Regions from separate parts of the Homo sapiens genome. Here region 2 is linked to region 1. The links come from fine-mapping of genetic effects on gene expression. Tissue or cell type: whole blood. Region 1 holds a variant in brackets; the other region holds the start of a gene. All regions are shown on one strand. Distances are between the middles of the regions.

The links. PIP is the estimated chance that this variant, and not a neighbour inherited with it, causes the effect.
Region 2: it holds the start of PYGO2, and the variant in region 1 is fine-mapped to the expression of PYGO2 in whole blood (INTERVAL, PIP 0.95).

Annotation. Positions count from the first base shown.
Region 1 is chr1:154,984,837-154,987,336 of GRCh38, reverse strand. All of the region lies in intron 1 of FLAD1 (flavin adenine dinucleotide synthetase 1), which reads right to left. Among named protein-coding and RNA genes, the nearest start is that of FLAD1, 2.7 kb to the right of the region's middle. RefSeq lists an enhancer at 1,036-1,725. The variant C/G (reference allele first, on the strand shown) is at 1,300.
Region 2 is chr1:154,960,527-154,963,026 of GRCh38, reverse strand. PYGO2 (pygopus family PHD finger 2) reads left to right here and starts at 1,245. Exons shown (of 3, transcript NM_138300.4): 1 at 1,245-1,553; 2 at 2,001-2,050. The coding sequence starts at 1,451. It overlaps SHC1 (SHC adaptor protein 1), which reads left to right. Exons shown (of 12, transcript NM_001130040.2): 12 at 1-729. PYGO2-AS1 (PYGO2 and SHC1 antisense RNA 1) reads right to left here and starts at 1,489. Exons shown (of 1, transcript NR_171036.1): 1 at 404-1,489. RefSeq lists enhancers at 158-897, 898-1,638 and silencers at 780-1,189, 1,240-1,699.

The DNA.
Region 1 (2,500 bases):
GTTCTGATGGCCGGGCATGGTGGCTCATGCCTGTAATTCCAGCCCTTTGGGAGGTGGAGTGGGGTGGCTCGCTTGAGCTCAGAAGTTCGAGACCAACCGGCACAGTATGGTAAAACCCCATCTCTACAAAAAAATACAAAAATTAGCGGGGCGTGGTGGCGCATGCCTGTAGTCCCAGCTACTTGGGAGGCTGAAGTGGGTGGGCTGCTTGAGCCTGGGAGGCAGAGACTGCAGTGAGCCGAGATCATGCCACTGTACTCCAGCCTGGGTGACAGGGACCCTGTCACCAAAGGAAAAAAAAAAAAGGGTCTGTGTTTTGGAGTAAGGGAGCATCAGGCATTAGGCTGGAATCCCATCTCTACAACTTCCTAGGTATGTAACCCTGGGCAGGTTTCTCAACCTCTCTGACCCCCAGTTTCATCAATTGGGATTTTTTGCCGACCAGGTGTGGTGGCTCACGCCTGTAATCCCAGCATTTTTGGAGGCTGAGGTGGGAGGATTGCTTGAGCCTAGGAGTTTGAGACCAGCCTGGGCAACATGGTGAAACCCTGTCTCTACAAAAAAATACAAAAAATTAGCTCTAGCCTAGGCGACAGTGAGACTTTGTCTCAAAAAAAAAAAAAAAAAAAAAAGGGTGGGGGGCTGGGCAAGGTTGCTCATGCCTGTAATCCCATCACTTTGGGAGGCTGATGTGGGAGAATTGCTTGAGGCTGGCCTGTTTAACATAGCGAGAACCCCGTTTATAAAACAAATGCACACAGAAAAATAAAATTTTAAAGAAGAAAAAAAGTGCCAACTTCGTGGGATTTTTGTGTGGGGTTGTTGTGAAGATTAGTAAAATCACATATATGTGATGTATAGGACACTACCAGACTCTAGTAGGCACTTAAAATATAGGGGTCACCAGCCTGGCCAAAATGGTGAAACTCTGTCTCTACTAAAAATACAAAAAATTAGCCAGTCGTGGTGGCGGGCGCCTGTAGTCCCAGCTACTCGGGAGGCTGAGGCAGGAGAATGGCGTGAACCCGGGAGGCGGAGCTTGCAGTGAGCCGAGACCGCGCCACTGCACTCCAGCCTGGGTGACAGAGCGAGACTCCGTCTCAAAACAAACAAACAAAAACCCCACAAAAATTAGCCAGGCGTGGTGGCGGGTGCCTGTAATCTCAGCTACTCGGGAGACTGAGGTGAGATAATTGCCTGAACCTAGGAGGCAGAGGTTGCAGTGAGCTGAGATTGCGCCATTTGCGCTCCAGCGTGAGCAGCAGGAGCGAAACTCCGTCACACACACACACACACACA[C/G]ACACACACACACACACAGCCGGGCGCAGTGGCTCATGCCTCCCAGCACTTTGGGAGGCTGAAGCGGGTGGATCACCTGAGGTCAGGAGTTCGAGACCAGCCTGACCAACATGGAGAAACCCCGTCTCTACTAAAAATACAAAAATTAACCGGGCGTGGTGGCCCATGCTTGTAATCCCAGCTACTCGGGAAGCTGAGGCAGGAGAGTCGCTTGAACCCAGGAGGCGGAGGTTACGGTGAGCCAAGATCGAGCCATTGCACTCCAGCCTGGGCAACAAAAGTGAAACTCTGTCTCAAAAAAAAAAAAAAAAAAAAAAAAAATTGGGGTCAGGGCCAGGTGAGGTGGCTCACGCCTGTAATCCCAACATTTTGGGAGGCTGAGGTGGGTGGATCACTTGAGGTCAGGAGTTCGAGACCAGCCTGGCCAACATGGCGAAACCCCATCCGTCCCTACTAAAAATACAAAAATTAGCCAGGTGTGGTGGCACATGCCTGTAGTCCCAGCCACTTGGGAGGCTGAGACAGGAGAATTGCTTGAACCTGGGAGGTGGAGGTTGCAGTGAGCCAAAATTGATCACGCCACTGCACTCCAACCTGGGCAACAGAACAAGACTCTGTCTAAAAAAAAAAAAAGGGTCTATTAAGGCTGAGTGCAGTGGCTCATGCCTGTAATCCCAACTACTCGGGTGGCTGAGGCATGAGAACTGCTTGAACGCGAGAGGTGGAGGTGCAGTCAGCTGAGATCCCACCAATGCACTCCAGCCTGGGCAACAGAGTGAGACTATCTAAAAAAAAAAAACAAAAAAAACAAAAAAAACACAAATTTACAAAGAATATTAAAAAAGATTATTATTAAAACTTGACATTTGGCCAAGCTCAGTGGTTCATGCCTATAATCCCAGCAAGGTGTGGGAGGATTGCTTGAGCCCAGGAGTTTGAGACCAGCCTGGGCAACATAGTGAGACCGTTTCTGAAAAAAAAAAAAAAAAAAAAAAAAAAAAAAAAATTAGCCAGGTGTGGCGGCTAACACCTGTAGTCACAGCAACTCCAGATGCTGAGGCAGGAGGACTGCTTGAGCCTGGAAGATGGAGGCTTCAGTGAGCTGTGACTGTGCCACTGCACTCCAGCCTAGGTGACAGAGCAAAATCTTGTCTCAAAAACAAAAAAACCCGTGTCATCTGTTATGTCCTCTAGTAAGACT
Region 2 (2,500 bases), 24 kb after region 1:
CCAAAGTGCAGCCCTTCCTCCTGAAGCCTCTGCCCTGCCTCCCTTTCTGGGAGGGCGGGGTGGGGGTGACTGAATTTGGGCCTCTTGTACAGTTAACTCTCCCAGGTGGATTTTGTGGAGGTGAGAAAAGGGGCATTGAGACTATAAAGCAGTAGACAATCCCCACATACCATCTGTAGAGTTGGAACTGCATTCTTTTAAAGTTTTATATGCATATATTTTAGGGCTGTAGACTTACTTTCCTATTTTCTTTTCCATTGCTTATTCTTGAGCACAAAATGATAATCAATTATTACATTTATACATCACCTTTTTGACTTTTCCAAGCCCTTTTACAGCTCTTGGCATTTTCCTCGCCTAGGCCTGTGAGGTAACTGGGATCGCACCTTTTATACCAGAGACCTGAGGCAGATGAAATTTATTTCCATCTAGGACTAGAAAAACTTGGGTCTCTTACCGCGAGACTGAGAGGCAGAAGTCAGCCCGAATGCCTGTCAGTTTCATGGAGGGGAAACGCAAAACCTGCAGTTCCTGAGTACCTTCTACAGGCCCGGCCCAGCCTAGGCCCGGGGTGGCCACACCACAGCAAGCCGGCCCCCCCTCTTTTGGCCTTGTGGATAAGGGAGAGTTGACCGTTTTCATCCTGGCCTCCTTTTGCTGTTTGGATGTTTCCACGGGTCTCACTTATACCAAAGGGAAAACTCTTCATTAAAGTCCGTATTTCTTCTACCTCTGCCTCTTAACCCTTCTGGGAAGCCTATTGTGTACGCCGCGGGCCCTCAGCGGCAGACGGGGAGGCGGGAGGTCGCGGCCGCCCAGGGAAGCTGGGGGTCTGCAGAGTTTGGGTGCGGCAGAGTGGGGCGTTTCGCGCCACCGTCCCCATGGGGATGTCGTGTCCGCAGAGGGGGCTGGCTCCGGGTGGGTCGAGGCGGGAGCCGGGCCTGCCCGGCGCCCCAGCACCGGCCCCCGGGCTACCTGGGCCTCCCGGGTGCGCCTTCGGCTCGCGCGCGCCCCTCCGCGGCGGCTCCACCGCCCGGGATGGTACGGTCCGGCAGCCGGGCCGCGCGCTGCCGCCCCTCGGTGAGCTGGTGTGGGCCGCCGCTAGCGGAGACGACCCTTTCCACTCGCGTGGTGCCGTGGTAAGCCTCGTCCCTCGCCCGCCGCCTGTTTTCAGGCGTAGCGTCTCGTCCGGTCCTTGCTCCCCCTCCCCGCAGCGCTCAGTGGTGGTGGCCGCGACGAGTTCCGGTTCCGGTTGCTGCCGCCGCTGGCGGGCGGCGAGTCTGGAGAGAGCGCGCAGTTTGCGCGGCGGCTCGGCGCTTCCCTGTCGTCGCACTTTGTGGTTGCTGCAGCTCGGGGGCCTGGGCTGCCCCTGACACCCCTTCTGGGCGATGGTGCAGCCCAAGGGCGCCTCCATCCCCCGCCGCTGCCGCTAACCCGGGTCCCCCACTCCATGGCCGCCTCGGCGCCGCCCCCACCGGACAAGCTGGAGGGAGGTGGCGGCCCCGCACCGCCCCCTGCGCCGCCCAGCACCGGGAGGAAGCAGGGCAAGGCCGGTGAGCGCGCTGCGAGGGGCGGGGGCTGAAGAGGCCCAGGACTTGGGAACCTCAGAGGGGAGGGATGGTGGGCGGGGGGTGTTTCACAGTCTGAAGGCTTGAAGGGAGGCTCAGGTGAAAAGGATGGGTGGGTGTAATCCTCCAGGGGTTGGGGGCAGGTGTCACACATTGAGGACTCTAGGGTTTGGAGCCACATGGAATTCAGTACTCACTTGGAGCTTGAGGATATCGAAAGATGGGATATCTTTCATTTAAAGGAAGACGTAGCTGAGAGTATGATCATCTTCACAATCTATTTTTCATATTGCACCCCTTGTTAGCATTTGTTGAATAAATAAGCAAGTATGTATTGACGTTAAAGGAGTTCCTCAGAGCATGGCTGAGAGAAAAGAGGTTGGGGAAACCTCAGGGAAACTTGTCTGCGTCTTCCTTTTGCCGCTCTTCCAGGTCTGCAAATGAAGAGTCCAGAAAAGAAGCGAAGGAAGTCAAATACTCAGGTGAATGGTGGTTGGTGGTGGGTTTGGTTCCCAGCAGCCCCTTGGCGGCACACTGTCTACTCTGCCATTCCAGTATCTGTTTGTATCTTGTATCAGCTGCAGGGAGGAGAGAGAAAACTGTCTTTCTTGCTTTGCTTCTTGTTCTTTCGCTGAACCTTATAACAAGTTTAGGGGAAAGTATCCTCTCCTAAGAGATGATTCGACCAAAGTTCTTACCACGCAGGGTTCCAGTCTCCTCCATGTTTCCTGTCCTGGTTTCCTCCTGATGATAACGTAACACCTACCACTTACTGATCCTTTTTTTAGTGCCAGGGATTGCGCTAACATGCTTTAACAGTTTGGGGAGATAGGCATTATCCCTATTTTACAGATGAGAAATCTGGGGGTTAAAAATGTTAAATACATGCTCCACAGTCTTGAGGTTGTTTTTCAGGGTCAGAGCTGGGATTC